2 separate regions of the Homo sapiens genome follow, and region 2 is linked to region 1. The links come from fine-mapping of genetic effects on gene expression. Tissue or cell type: whole blood. Region 1 holds a variant in brackets; the other region holds the start of a gene. All regions are shown on one strand. Distances are from middle to middle.

Region 1 (8,107 bases):
ATTCCATTAGGGTGCATGGTGTTTCCCTGAAGCAATCCCCAGCCCTCGCCACACCTGCTGTAAGTGACCTGGAAACTCACAGCCCACCTTCTCCCCTTACAGTCGAGATGGGGAAGATGCATTCTGAGGTCTCTACCAAGAACTCCTGGCCTGAGACTGGTGCGTCCTCTCCTAGTGTGTGGGTAAGAAATGGTCCATCTTGTTCTGGGCTCTCTGACGCTGAGGTCTGACCAAGACAGCCCAACCACCTTTGGCAGGCATGAGGAATTGTGTTGAAGGTCTCTAGGTGCAGACTCAATCTGCAGTGGGAAGTGTTAAGTGAACAGAATTATAGAAATTTTTCTAATTGCCTGTGTCTTTCAGACACACAAACAGGTCTAGAGTACAAGGTCATCTGCTATTAATAAGCACAGAGATTACTGCAACCAGTGGCCTCTCTTGGACTTTGCTGAGAGAGTGAAGTACTCAGGGATTGTCTGAGTCTGACCTCCCTAAAATGGAAACATGTCAACTCCACTCTAGGGGCACAGGCAGCACCGGTGAACCTGGACCCAAGGAAGCAAAGGTATCTACAGTATAGCATTATTGGACTTATTTCTATTGGTTTCTGGAAGCTGTTGGTCTTAGCAGTGTCAGCCAAGTCTTCCATTCCTGCTAAATAGCCAGGAATCTTGGAGGAGTTGAAATTATCTTGCCTTGTGCTGACACATGTTAAAGTTTTGACTAGTGACATCTGGTGTCAGTTTTGGGAAGCTGGGAAGACAGTGGCAAGCAAGGATGATCCAAGGGCTTAATGTTGTCTTTGATGGAGCCCTCCTTTCCTTGAGGTAGCTGCCTGAAAGTTTGTTAGCCGAGTTTTGAAGATCAAGCTGTAGCTGTAGGTCTTTCAGGCAGACCATGGTACGTTGCTCCCAGATTCCACTGGCAGGAAGATTGGGCATTTCACTGAAGCTTGAAATCAGACTAAACCTACAATTCATAGAGGACTGGGAAAGAGGAAGGTATTAGCTGGGGGTATCATGGATGCTGTAAGTTCAAATGGCTGCCTTTCAGTTATGAGTAGAAACTAAGTGATAAGAAAACAAGAAGTCGTCTTATGTTGGGTCCAACTGTGACTGTTCTGATATCTCCTGAATGGAGACGATTCTTACCTAATTCCCCTACAAATTGCAAGACCTAGAATTTAAAAGATGCTCATTTATTTTGACTGTGATAATGGAAAAAATTGCCAAGGAGCTTGATGCCAACAGAGATTTGAGTGAAAATGCACCCTGAGTTCAGGTTCAACTCATCCATCTTGGCTGTATGAAGGAAACTAAGTTCTTGCTGACTCTATAGAAAATTTTCACTTTTGAACCAAAAAATTGTTGAAGCAAATGGGCTATGGGTTGGCAGAAGGCCTGGCCATCTCTGTAGCATAATCTGAGGTGGTTGTGGACCAAAATTTTATGAAACATTTGAGACAGACCTGGGGGAGAGGAAGAGAAAGAGGGGCCTGGCATTCTAGCCAGTATTTTCTCAATGACAAGGAGGCCGAGGGGGATTAAAAAGAAATAGGCAAGACTTAGAGTGTCCGTGAAGGAAGGACATGACAAGAGAAGGAAATATCTTAAAGATGAATACTCAAGAGGTAACAACTCATACACTTGCAGAGAAGATTGGAAAACTATAAAGCAAGCTGTTGCAGGGGGAAAGATTGTGATGACTGTGACCTGAATGCATTATGAATCCTCAATTGAAAATATTCTTGCAAATCTGCATGAGACAATATAGAAGTTGGAGAGACAACACTGTATCTGTATTCCAAGAAGAACTGCGTTATGACTAGCAAATGGGCAGAAGTGACTTATGGAAATAAGTGATAGCCAGGGCTGACTCTTCTGTCTCTATTCTCGTGAAGTAAAGGGGGAAAGCAGAAGATACTTCTTTAACTCCTTCTTGCAGGAGAGATAAGAAAGGGCCTTCCTTTTTTGAGTTGGTGTGAGAGGTTGATTGTAAATGAATAAGTACAAAGATACATTTGCTTCCATAAACTTGAAACTTTATTACCTGCAAACCACCATCCGAAGAGATGTATGCATAGTCAGATGTTCCACAGAAACAGTTTTAAAAAGTGGGTGATGGCCCATGATAAGCCATGGTGCCTACAATCCCAGCACTTTGGGAGGCTGAGATGGTCGAATCACTTGAGTCCAGGAGTTCAAGACCAGCCTGGGCAATGTGGCAAAACCCGGTCTTTACCAACAAAATAAAATAAGCCAGGCAAGGTGGCATGTGTCTATAGTCCCAGCTACTCAGGGAGCTGAGGTGGGTGAATCACCTGAGCATGGGAGGTCAAGGCTGCAGAGTGTCATGATTGCACCACTGCACTCCAGCCTGGGTGATAGAGTGAGACCTCATCTCAAAAAATAAAAAGTGGGTGAGGGGGACAGGCAGACAGCAGGGGTAATGTTAGAAACAGGGTTAATAAATATGGTCCAGACTGTGTCACCAAAAAGATTTCTTCTGTGGGAATTATATCTTTATTAGCAAGAAAACTTTGCTCAGAAGTTTCCTGAGTTCCCTCACCCTGACTTGATGGAGCACATTAAAATACCTTTTCCCTCTACCTTTTGATGAGTGATCAAGGAATTCATTTGTTTGGAGAATTAAGTCACCTAGGCCATTGCTATCTTGAGTGGGAATTCATTATGTGGCATAGTCAAGCAGAAGGCAACTGGTGTTGGTGCTGTTGTCATACAGTTTGCCTTTTAAGCTACACACCTATATTATTAGATAAAAACATTATTTTTGCGTGTTGTGCTAATAAGAGCAAAAAGATAAAGTCCCTGAAGAACCTAGATGCAGGTTTTTGGGGAGGATAACTGTGGACATGTCTGCTCCCTGAACCCTGGAAAGATTTATTTTACTGAACAAATTCTCATTAAGTGATACAGTCAAAGGGAAATGAAGAGCTACTCCACTTTAATAACTACTAAATTAATCCAAGAAACATTTAACTTGTAAGTCAGGCACTCCCTAGCCCAATGGCTTTGTAGTTTTTTTATTTGTCTTTGGTTTGGGGTTTTTTGTTTGTTTGTTTGTTTGTTTGGCTTAGGAACAGAGGAAATAGCAAAAAAGACTGAAAGATTATTGACAAAGATCAAGATCCAAAATCAGAAGCTTTCATTTCCAACTAAACTCTGTACAAGTGTTCTGGATGGGGCAAATTAACAATTTAACTTAATGCTTGCCAATGAAGATGGTAGCTTGCTGTGACCTTTTTTCTATGATGTACCAGAAACAGCAATCAATTTGCCCCTTAGAAATTGTGCCCAGGAATAAAACTAATGCTAGGGAGAGTACACTGTATTGAAAGCACCCTGGAGTTAAAACTAGAGTGGTTCTATGTAGCCATAGGAATAAATATAAAGATTAAATAGACTAAATGAAGAGACTGATATCAACCTTTCTTTTTTATTCCTTAAAACTTGGCTAAAACATGCACATGAAAATTTGATCTAAATGCCTTAAAATAATATTTGTATATTTTAATCAAAACTTATGAAAAGGTCTAA[C/G]TAGGTAACTTTTTAGCTGTTTCTCGTTTATCTGTGCATGAAGAGGTAGTGTGTACACGAAGAGGTAGTGTGTACAGAGGCTACACATTCCTCGACTTCTAATGAGAGCCATCCACATTTCGGCTACAGGGTCTATGAGGAACAAACCAGCTAGTTGAGGGCCTGGCTTACAATACAATGTTTATTCAGTAAAGACAAAGAGTGCAGTTCTTTATCTTTTAAAGAAGTGTGGAGAGAGGGTGGAAGGATTGGATATTTGCAGGGAGGGAAAAGGAAGGACAGCTCAGGGCATTGAAGGTAAATGCCACTTCTCTGTCAGGGTGGTCAGTGCCGGCCAAGGGTCTTTGTGTCGAAGGGCTATGCAAAGAGAAGATGTCAGAGATAAAAGGTTTTCACCTGTGGTTAGGCATTGCCAGATCTCTTGATTTAGGGCTGTGGCATTGCCTTGAGCAACTTACTAATGGAAAGGACTATTTGACTTAGAGGCTCGACTTTTTTGCGCTCAGGAATTTGAGTTACCAGTTATTTTTTACCCATTTAAGGACATGCATTTTCTTGCCAGTAAAGTTCAGATTTCCTACAAGATCGGAAATAAATAGTATATGAAAGTACAACCTGTAAATTCTCATTTGCTGAGCTCCTACATGAAAATTCATATATTTTTTCTATAGAAATACTCCTAATCTTGCTTTCTTGTGTATCTGTACCAGTAAAACGTGTCCCTTGCGTATAATTTATAGAAGTATTATATGAGAATATGCAAGAAAAAATGCTGGTATAGTTACAGTGTTAAGGGTTTATACTATTTCTAAAATAGACTGCATCAGTGATTAAAGAAATCGCTTTGTAAAATGGTTTTTCTTTCTCACTTCTACCCCCATTCTTATGGACTTCGTTGGGTGAGCATTTCTATGCCTGGGAGTCATTTTCTTGGCAAGTTGCTGTTAACGAGAATGTCCTATCTCTCAGCTGTGCTAGGACAGAAAATCATACTGACACTTACTGTGACAGGCAGACTAGTGCCTCCCCACAAAGATGCCCACATCCTGATTCTCAGAAGTTGTGAATATGTTGCCTTACATGACAAAAGAAATTTTGCAGCTACAATTAAATTAAGGACCTGAGATGGGAAGATGACCCTGGATTTTCTGAGTGAGCTCAATCTAATCACATGAGTTCTTCCAAGTGTTACAGAAAACCTTTCCTACCTGGGGTCAGAGGGAGATGTGACTATGGAAGAGAGAACCAGAGAGACTGCAGCATGGGAGGGACTTAGCTCCATGTCTCTGGCTTTGGTTAAAGATGGAGGAAGGGGCCAGAAGCCAAGCAATGCCAGAAGTTCCTAGAAGCTGCAAAAAGCAAGAAATAAGATTCTTTCCTAGAGCTTCCAGAAAGAGACACAGCTTAGTGAGACCCCTATCAGACTTCTGACCTTCAGAACTATAATACGTGTGTGTGTGTGTGTGTGTGTGTGTGTGAAAGCCACTAAGTCGATGGCAATTTGTTGCAGCAGCTGTAGAAAATTAATTCATCTACTGTCCTGGATTGAGGGTCTGGGACCTGAGTCCTGGAGTTCTTTTTCTAGTAGTAAGCTTTGCTCTGTGAATTTTTCTACCCTGTGAGCCAAATTCACAGGTCTGTATTTATAAAAAATGGGCTTCTTGAGTAATACAGATGAGAAAAATTTTAAGGACAATATATGTGGTTGTGGTAGTGTTGACAGTCAAAACAAGCACTCTGAGAACTACATTATCAGAAAATAGTGCATCTCTGTTTCAACTGAGTGTTCATCTCCTTAAGAAAGCACATTCTATATTTACTCAGCAGACCAGGATGAAATTGCAGTGGAGGGATTGTCTGAAACTATATTCACCTAAAACACAATTTTGCTAAATCAACTTTTCGAAAGTTCAGTAAAACTTTTGTTTTTAAATGATGTCAGAATAAATTGTTTGACTATATTAACATTTCAAATAGGTGTATTTTAAGTTTTTAAGCTAGCTTGTGATTCACATATGATTTTTTGTTAATTTCAGTTCATTTGTAAGCTTCAGTATCCTTGGGTGGCTGTGATTTTTGATGCTTATTTCTAATATGTTGAAATGTTACCTTTGAACTCAGAGCTAGAGTTTTAAGATAAACTGGGAATATGGGCAGTTTGATATTCAGAAATAGCATGGAAGATGGAATTGCTCTGTTAAAGTAGGGAGGAGTCTGGAGCCAAGTGGGGTGGGAGCGGGTGAGCTACCTGAACTTCTTGAATAAGCCCATTATGCAATAGCATGATTATCTCCAGAGAAGTTGGGGTGGTGTTCTGGATGGCAGCACAGTGGATGTGCTGCAAAGGCATAGCTGAGGTTTTGAAGAAGTGAGATGCAACAGAGCAGTAATCATGACATAATGTGTATATACAACATACACACGTGTGCAAATATTTACAACACAAAGGCATATTGATCAGCTAAAACAGCATGTATATTTGTAAACAAATAAATTACAAAGTATTTGTAATTCTACCACTTGGAGACTCGACTATGTTTTTGGAAATCTTCTGGTCTTTTCCTTTTGCTTTGCACCCAGTTTCCTTGCATAATCACTCTAGTTTACTAAAAGACAATTTGATGTCATTGTCAAGATCATGGTTTTTAAGGTCAGACAGCCCTGGGTAGAGTCAAGGCTCTGTTATGTTATAGGAGGCAAGTTATTTAACCTTGTTGAGACTTGTTCATCCATACAAGGAAGGTGATGATACAAATAACACAGTATTGTTCTGAGGATAAAAGAGAAAATACCATGATTTTCAATCCTCACTGCACATTAGAATCATCCAAGATCTTTGAAAAATTCCAATATTTGCATCCCACCTCCCCAGAGAGCCTGATGTAATTGTGCTGCCTTGGCTTGGCAGGTTTATTTCTGTTGTTGTTTTTAGTGATTTATCTAGGTCACTATGATGCAGCCAGGAGGACTGAGAAGTTCTGCAATAATGTTTGCAAAGCTCTTGATACTTAAAGCTCAAAAAGGCATTAGCATCATTATTGTACTTTTTTTTAATAAAAATGGATTAATAAAGCCCATTATTACCTGTTTTTTTTTCCCCACTCCCCTGCCATCTATGAGCTCTGGAAAAAGCCTACCACACTCCTCCTTTAGAGGTAGAGTCAAATCAACTAATTTGATTCAGCTTTCACTGACAAATGTGCAGCTGCCTTGTTTATCAGTTTCCAAGGCTGGATAGTATTCAGTAGTATCTTTATATTCCAATTTACTTAATTAGCCACACTAGAAATTTAGATCATTGAGAGTATTGTGCTAAAGAATATCATGAATCAGCTTGTGCATATAAATATCTTTATAGCTGTTCAACTATTTCCTTAGGATAAATTCTTAGAGAAACTGCTGGCTCAGAAGGTACATACACTTTCAGGGCTTCTCAACATTGTCAAATTGCCCTCCTTAATGGAGTGATCAATGTCATTTCAGATGTGTTAGGGCTACAAATAAGAAAAAAACTTAGTTCGAATTAATAAAGGAGATTGATTGGCTCATGTAACTGGCAAGTCTAGAGATTAAGTGAATTTCAGAACTAGTTTGATTCAGCATTTCAATAATACCATCAAGGATCCATCTACATCCCTTCATTTTCCCCCTTAGCCCTATGCAGTACCAGCTTTTTTTTTATAGTTGAAACAGGACTGCCAACAATTCCTGGAGACGCATGCTTCCTAATGCATACACAGGGAGAGAAGGCAGCTCCTTAAGCTCTGACTGTAAGAACAAGGAAGTTGTTTTCTTCAAAGTTCCAGCAAATCATGCCTTACTTCTGATTGGTCTGGTTTTGGTTGATCAGGGATGAGAACATGCTCATTAGTTTACCCCTGAGTTGCTGATTAGCTCATGTCTAAGTTATACAAAGAGGTAGGCTTCTTCCAGAGCTCATAGATGGCAGGGGAGAGCTTCAAATGTGCTGAAGGAAGGAGAATGTGCAGTGAGGAGACAACCACAATGCCCATGATGAGCAAAATTTGAGAGAATTAAATCTTGCTGCTACCTGCAAAGTTTGAGGAGAAGGGAAGAAAGTGAGTTTGTGAGAAATGGGCCTTAGCATTGTGTTATGAGTCTACCGTAGGCAACTTAAAGACATTTCCACAGCTGTAGGGGTGAATCAGTTGCATGCCTTCTGCCTAAGAGAATCCACTCAGGATGGTTTCATCCACATGAGTCTGGTGAGTTTAAAGAGTAGTAGGTTCAGTATCACAGGGCTGTTGCGTTAATCTGCAGCCAAAATGAGTGACTTCAATTTTCTGTACCATTTTATGTCTCAAGTAAACAAATACATAATTTCTTATAGCAAACATATATAGCAATCTTAAGTAAACCATTGCTTTTGCAAGTCTTGTTTCTTATTAACTGATCATCAATCGAAGTCAGGTGGAACATGAAGCAAATCTTTTATGAGAACTGCTTGATGATTATAGCCCTGAAAACCCTTTTTCCCTTGAAATACCATAATATAATGATTCTCAAACAGGATTCTGTGCACCAGAACC
Region 2 (8,086 bases), 780 kb before region 1:
TGTGTGTTTGTATACCTGATGGCATGTCTGTGTAAGTTACATACAGCCTGACTTAGCATCTGTCTGTTTCAGCCTGTAATAGGCGAGGGTCAGAATTTTCACATTCATTGAGATATATTCCTGGAACTTGTCTGTAAATCATTGTCATCCAGGAAGAGGTGTGTGAGTGAATGACTTTCTGTGTCTGCTCCTGTAATGAGGCACTTATTTTTAGCTGAGCCAGTGGGTGCCTGTTGATGAAATCGATGTTTATACTCTTCATCCCTATGGGTTTGTACCTGTCCCTGTTTATCTCTGCATATTTATCTACCTACATAAACAACTTCAAAAGCCAAATATTCTACTGTTTACCTCACATCCTCAGCTCTTTCCTTTCCTTCACCATTCTTTCTTATTTATAGCTTGTTTTCAGCAAGGAAAGCTGCTCTCATGAATAGCAAACCCCAGCCACACTGTTGATTGACAAATCTCTACAGATGGATAAGGATTACAGCATGATGGTTATGCAACTCAAGATCCCCTAGCCCATCTTTTCTTGTTTTCTTTTCAACTGGGGGTGCAGTAAGGCGGTGTTAAAAATGCAGGCAAGCTATTCCTTTGAATAAAAGCGGTATCTGGGATTTAGGTTTATAGGACTTCAGAGTTAGAAGGGTGCCTGGGAAATCATCTAGCTTAGAAACTCTATTTAACAGTTTGGGAAACTGCAGCCTCAAGAGAGGAAGTGTCTTTCCCAATGTCAGGCACTGGGAGTTAGAACACACTTTTTTTTTTTTTTTTCACCCTTGGCCAATGCTTTTCCTACATAGAGGGCACAACAGTCTTGGGAAATACACAAGAAGTTCCCCAAATCAAAATGAAGATAAACAATATTATGATTTTAAAATTTTTCCTGTCAGTACTTCTAGTAAAGGAAAGTTCTATACAAACCCCAAGATGATGGAGCTGCCAGGAAAAAAAAAAAAAAAAAAAGCTGAGAATGATTTCACTAGGTCTTTGGATGCCTTTAATCCATCAGTTCTAAAACCCTTTGCATTATGAGGGAATGCCACAATTCGCAAAGTGCTTCCCTGTGCATTATCCCATTTCTTCTACACACTATCTACCCCCTAGAGGTGGCTGCTGTTACTGTTCTTTAACTGTAGAGGGAATGGGGCCCAGAAAGAAGTATTAGTTCAAGGTCAAATGGTACCTTCAGGGCACAGCCAGAGCTAAAACCCAGGTCTTCAAACACCCTTGCAAGGAGATTATCATGGCCCAAGGCTTCCCCGGAATCCTGAGAGATCACAAGGGCAGGGCCTAGAATTTGCTGCAGGCCTTGAATTTGGGGGTGGGGTACGTTCAGACTGATGTTCTTAGAGGGTTTCAAGGGTCCCCTCCAGCCAGCAGGCAGAGACCCTGAAAAAAAGGTTACCGTGGCAACTCGCATTCCTCGGAGAGTGAGTCAGGCAGAGAAGAGCCTTCTGGTGGGTGGGACTTGGAGAAAGTTTCAAAAGTTGATTCCTTCTCCAGGCAACCCCCTTCTTCTCCTCCCTCCCCCTCTTTGCTCTAGGCTATGTCGATGTGGCAGCTGATAGCTGAGAGTTAACTCTCTCTTTCCTCAACCACTCCCTTTTCAGAAGGCTTCATCCTCCAGCAAATACACACATTTGTTACCAGTCCTCACTCCATCCCCACGTCATGCCCTCTAATCCATTTGAGAATATCTTAAAGCTGAAAGCTGTGACCACCCATATTCATCCTCTCTCTCTCTCTCTCTCCCTCTCTCTCTCACACACACACACACACACACACACACACACACACAGTGCATACAATTTTTAGGGGCTTAGAGATGGCTTGAGGCCCATTCAAAGACCACTCCATAGACCCTGGTTAAGAAATCTTCCTTTGAATATTTTAGAGGACACAAAGCACCCCAAAGAGCCTTCAGTTTCAGCCTTCTTTCATTACAGATGGGGCACTAAATCCAGGGGAGACACTTACCTAAGATCACACATAAAATGCATGCCCGAAGCCTGTGTCCTACTTCTGCTTTGCTTCTCACTAAACCACCAGCACTTGGGGCGTATAGAAATTTAACTCTAAAGCATTACTAGAGAAAACATTTTCTCTAATGAAAAAAATGCTGTCCTTTCCTGAGGAAAATGCATGCCTCTCTGTTCCCTTTTGGGCAGACTGGGAATCCTGGAAGACATAACTCATCCCAGTGCCCCCCTTCCCTTGGAGTCCTTGGAGTCCCTTTCCCTAAGGAAGTCCACTTGACAGCCAGTTCACGGAGCCAGTGGCGGCGAAGAAAGGTAGTGGATTTGTCTGAAGAAGAACTGACACCCTGACAGGCTGGACACTAGTCTTGGGTGGATTACGGAAGGGGACCCTGGAATTCTCTCCCTCTTCCCTTCCCCCTTTCCCCCTTCTGAGAATATCTCCCCCAGCACACTCCACCTCCCATTACACCCATGTCTTGGTTGACGATATCTGATGTCTGGGTTTTCAGATCTAGATAAACTAAGGGCTACTGCCTGTGTTTACCATCCCAAGGAACTCAGGACAGGAACAACACCTAACCCAAGACTGAGGTTGTGATGGTGCCATTTCAGGCAGAATGGTGCTGAAATTTGTGTATTGGGGGGACGGAAGGTGGTGTTTGGGAGTGAGGAGAATTAGAGGAAAACAGAAGGCTTCCCAGAGGTGTGGATTAATGGTGAAGCCTCCCCCTTTGCCTTTCAGAGATCAACTGATTGTTCGTGCAAAGTCCCTTTTGGAAAACAGAACCCCTGACCGAGATCTGGAGGACAGACTCCGGTTGCTGGCCAGGTCCCTGTGGCAGCTGTGATGGGATCAGATTCCCAGGAAAGGAGGAGGCTGCCACATTTGCAAAGGGAGCAAAGAGGACAGGCAGGCAGCCTCTGAAACCAGAGACAGACACAGAGAAAAACAGAGAGTGAGAAAATGCTCCCCCGAAGACATAGTGAGATTATTTTCTGTAAACCTGTAAGGGAAGACAAAGTTACACAGTGAGTCCACCTTCTGAAAAGCAACAGGCAGACAGGACCGAGGGCCATGCTCTTAAGGGGAGCCGTGATGGAGCCGGGAGGAGAGGCGCATCCTCAGCAGAGCTTCCCTCCCTTGCACACGAGCTGACGGCGTGAACGGGGGTGTCGGGGTTGGTGCAACTATAGAAGGGAAAGGCTGGGCGGGGGTCACACATACCTCAGTGGCAGGCAGGCAGGCGGCAGGCAGAGCGCGCTCTCCGGGCAGTCTGAAGGACCGCGGGAATGTGGAGGGGTTTAGAGACAGGCAACAGGAAACCACTCAGAGCTCTGGGCTGGGTCTATCTCCCCTCCACCCCGTGGTCCCTCCTCCTCCTGTCTCCTCCTTCCCCCGGCCTCCTCCTTCTCCCATAGCCAAAGCTGTCTCTGTCTTTCATTTCTTTCCTCCTCTTTTTGCGGTGGGCTGTCCTGACCAAACGTCCCAACCCTGCCTGCCTCATCTGTTCCGGGGCTGCTGCCTAAACCGACTCACAGAGTGCCAGGGCTGGACAGGCCTGGAGGGATGACCCAGAACAGCCTCTTTCTTGTTCAGAGGGCAAGTGAGGCCTGGAGACTGCAAGGAATTACCCAATGGCCCCCAGGGGCAGAACCAGGCCCAAGTGTCTTGATCTTCTAACCAGTGAGCTTTACAGGAGTCCTCCCTAATATTAGGCAATGCTGAGAAGGGCCAAGCAATTCAAGGGGGTTGTATTTGCCACAAAGGCAAGGCCAGGACTTACCACTGTACAGACAAGACAAGCTGCTACTAGTGGTATCATCCTTGATGATTTGGAACTGGTCTTAAAAAAAAAAATCCCACTCAAACTCCACTTGTACCACTAATAGACACATAAGGGATTAGACATCTAGCTGGTGGACCTGTGCCACCAGTATTGAACAGATAAGGTAATTGATGATATTGATGATAATCATAGGAGTAACAATAGCCAAAGTTTACTGAGGATTTAATAATCTTCACAGCAACCCCTTATCTTAGGCATTGTAATTATGACCATTTTAATAATAAGGAAACATAGATGCTAAGTAACTTGCCTATGATCACCTGGCAAAAAGTGGTATGAGAGGGCTGATTCTACGTTTCAACTTGGGTCACTCCTGTTATATATGAACTGCTCAGTGCAACAGGTCTTGGTTGAATGTTTATTTTGTGCCTAACACTCTGGGAGGTATGAGAATTAATAAATACCTGGTCCTTGTCCTCAAAAAGTTTTGTGGTTTCCGGTTTTTTTGTTTGTTTGTTTTGTTTTGTTTTGAGACAGAGTCTCACTCACTCTGTCGCCCAGGCTGGAGTGCAGTGGTATGATTTCGGCTCACTGCAACCTCTGCCTCCCGGGTTCAAGCAATTATCGCGCCTCAGCCTCCAGAGTAGCTGGGATTACAGGCGCACATGCCACAACACCCAGCTAATTTATTGTATTTTTAGTAGAAATGGGGTTTCAACATGTTGCCCAGGCTGGTCTCGAACTCCTGAGCTTGGGCAATCCGAATGCCTTGGCTTCCCAAAGTGCTAGGATTACAGGCGTGAGCCACCGCACCCAGCTTAGCTTTGTGGTTTCTTAAATTCTTTTTTAATTTTTTTAGACGAGTTAAGTGCAGAACTGAGAAGGGAAAAAAAGTACAAGGAATTCAATCTGTGACTGTGAACAATCAATCGAGATAACTCACTATTCAAGGAGCTTTGGATCTTGCTGAAAGGTTGTGCCTTACACATACACCCACTTACATGAGTGGTACAGACTCTAAGGCTTATCCCAGGGCTTCAGATTGGTGGATTCCTGAAAGAGGTGGACCTGGAAGCATGGGTTGGGTTTGAATACCATGGAAAGGAAGAAGGCAGAGAACACCCTCATGATACACTTCCATCCGCTGTGGCCCCTGTCTCTCTTGCCATTCTCTCCTCCTACCACTGTCCTCTGTGCCCACGCTGCTCCAGCCATGCCAACTTCCTTCCAGTCCTTCAACTACCCCAAAGCTTCTCCCACCCCAGGATTTTTTTTTTTTTTTTGAGACAGACTCTCACTTTGTTGCCCAGGCTGGAGGGCTGTGGCGCAATCTCAACTCACTGCAACCTCCACCTCCTGGGTTCAAGTGATTCTGCTGCCTCAGCCTCTCAAGAAGCTGGGATTACAGGCATGCACCACCACACCAGGCTAATTTTTGTATTTTTAGTAGAGACAGGGTTTCACCATGTTGGCCAGACTGGTCTCGAACTCCTGACCACAAGTGATCCGCCCGCCTTGGCCTCTCTAAGTGTTGGGATTACAAGTCTGAGCCACCATGCCCAGTATCTTTGCATTTGCTCTTACCTCTGCCAGAGACACTCTTCCACCTGATTTTCCTGTGCCTATTCTAATGTCACCTCCTTAGGGCCACTCAATCTACTTGCCTCTCTCACAGGCACAGTTCATCGCCTTACACTGTTTTATTTCCTCCCCATCACCTGTCATTCTCAGAAACCATTTGTTTCCCCAACTAGACAGAAGCTTGGTGAGAGCAGGGACTTCACATGTCTGTTTACTGCTTTGTTCCCAGCATGTTGACCAGTGCCCCACACAAAGCTGGCTTGCAATATTTTATTCAATAAATATATGAACTTCCGACTTGCCCATCTGAAAAAAGAGAGGGTTGTCTTTTACTAGGGTTCCAGCCTGGAACACTGCCCCACACCCAAGAGACCCTCAAACCACTAAAGTGGAATATAAAAGTTAGGGTGTTTGGTCCTTTTGAGAACCTAAAGGAAGCAATGAACTTTCTCTGCAGAAAAATCCACAAACACCCAAGAAGGAGTCTTCTCCAAATGACCCCCAAGGGCCGGGTGCAGTAGTATGTTCCTGGAGTCCCAGCTACTCTGAGGCTGAAGCAGGAGGATTGCTTAAGGCCAGAAGCCTGAGACTAGCCTCGGTGACAGAGCAAGATGCTGTCTGTAATAATAATAAAATAATAATAATAATAATAAGGCCAGGCATGGTGGCTCACTCCTGTAATTCCAGCCCTTTGGGAGGCTGAGGCAGGTAGATCACCTGCGGTCAGGAGTTCGACACCAGGCTGGCCAACATGGCAAAACCCTGTCTCTACTAGAAATACAAAAGAAATTAGTTGGGCATCATGGCACGTGCCTGTAATCCCAGCTACATGGGAGGCTGAGGCAGGAGAATCGCTTGAACCCAAGAGGCGGAGGTTGCAGTGAGCCGAGATGGCACCATTGCACTCTAGCCTTGGAGACAGAGCAAGACTCCGTCTCTAAATAAATAAATAAAGACCCCCCAAGGCCTCTCACCCTGGTTCAAAAGCCAAGTGCTTTTGGCTGCTGAATACAGGGTGCTGGTGGACTCTCCACATATCTGTTTTGCCATCCGGACAGATGTATATTTTTATAGGATTGGTTGCTATAGCTCCCAGGCATTATGGGACTAAAATTAGCAGAAGCTTTGTATTTTTATTCATAAACTAAAATGATGATTCTGATGAGGATGAACCAGTGGAACTCTTCCCAGTTTTTGGCTGGTGTTCCCATGTGGCTTTCAGTTCAGGAAGTGGAAGTCTGGTTGGGGCTGGGCTGAAGCTCTGGAAGAGAGATCCCTCCTGAGGGCCACTTCCAGGTCTCTGTGGGGACACCCTGAGCCAGAATCACTCCCAGAAAGAAAACTTGGTAGGTTTTATATCTAAGGATAAGAGCACATGGCTGGGTGCAGTGGCTCACACCTGTAATCCCAACACTTTGGGAGGCAGAGGTGGGTGGATCACCTGAGGTCAGGAGTTCGGTGACCAGGCTGACCAACATAGTGAAACCCCGTCTCTACTAAAAATACAAAATTAGCCAGGCTTGGTGGCTCACGCCTGTAATCCCAGCTACTTGGGAAGCTGAGGCAGAACTGCTTGAACTCAGGAGGCGGAGGTTGCAGTGAGCTGAGATAGCACCATTGCACTCCAGCCTGGGCAACAAGAGTGAAACTCCACCTCAAAAGGCAAAAAAAAAAAAAAAAAAAAAAAAAAGCATCCTGGGGCAACAGGAGCCTCTGAAGCAAGGATGACTCTGACCTAGAAAGGAAGACCACTAGGACTAAGGCTGGTCTTCCTGCCACCTGCCAAGGGCTTTATAGGAAGGGAGAGAAGCACAACGCAGCCAGGTGTGATAGACCTGGGTGTGAGTCCCACTCTGCTATTGAGTCACTGAGTGACTTTGGGCCCATCCCTGCCCCTCTGAACTACACCTTTTCTTTCTTTCTTTTTAATTGTGTTAATAGAGGCAAGGTCTTGCTAGGTTGCCCAGGCTGGTCTTGAACTCCTGGCCTCAAGCAATCCTCCTGCCTTGGCCTCCCAATGTGCTAGTATTACAAGCATGAGCCATTGTACCTGACCCTACACCTTTTCATTTATAAAATAGGTTGGACAGCAGAATAGTAGTAATAAGAGCCAGCATTTATTAAACACCTACTATGTGCCAAGCACCTGCTAAGCTCTTTGCATATATTGTCTGACTTAACTCTTATAAATCTGGAACTGTTATTATTCCCATTTTATAAATGTGGAAAATGAAGTTCATATCAATAATTTGCTCAAGCTTATGCACCAAGTATATGGTAAATCAGAGATTCAAATCCAGGTTTAAGGGACACCAGAGCCCAAGTGCTTGACTACTGCACGCTACTTCCCCCTCAACTCCTCTCCAGCTCTGACATACGTGGACTTCAGACCATACACCCCTCTCCCGAGTCAAGAATGTTGCTGATCCAACATTAGGCTGAATCAGCTTTTCATCTTGTAAAGCAATCCATCAGTATATTGGGGTCCCTGCTGCCTGCCCACTGCCCTCTCCAACCACTCTCCAGCTATGCTCTTCTAGGCACTTCTCACTTTACCCTGATCCTGCCCTCCTGACCTAGCACCCCAGCCACAGCCTTAGAACTCAAGGGACTGCCTGGGAAATGTCCACATGTGCCTGCCATCCAGGCTCCGTACACCCCCAGTACATCAGCTACCTCGTTCGTTCATTCAGTCTTTATTGTGCTTTGCATCAGGCACTGGGGATATAGCAA

Evidence for each region. PIP is the estimated chance that this variant, and not a neighbour inherited with it, causes the effect.
Region 2: it holds the start of SPARC, and the variant in region 1 is fine-mapped to the expression of SPARC in whole blood (INTERVAL, PIP 0.93).

What each region holds. Positions count from the first base shown.
Region 1 is chr5:152,465,824-152,473,930 of GRCh38, forward strand. No RefSeq gene overlaps it. Among named protein-coding and RNA genes, the nearest start is that of NMUR2, 65 kb to the left of the region's middle. RefSeq lists enhancers at 1-42, 580-749, 1,007-1,176, 2,227-2,396, 7,371-7,540. The variant C/G (reference allele first, on the strand shown) is at 3,558.
Region 2 is chr5:151,683,655-151,691,740 of GRCh38, forward strand. It overlaps SPARC (secreted protein acidic and cysteine rich), which reads right to left and starts at 3,261. Exons shown (of 10, transcript NM_003118.4): 1 at 3,211-3,261. CLMAT3 (colorectal liver metastasis associated transcript 3) reads left to right here. Exons shown (of 5, transcript NR_109873.1): 4 at 2,175-2,297; 5 at 2,728-4,256. RefSeq lists enhancers at 714-1,543, 2,372-3,201, 3,202-4,029.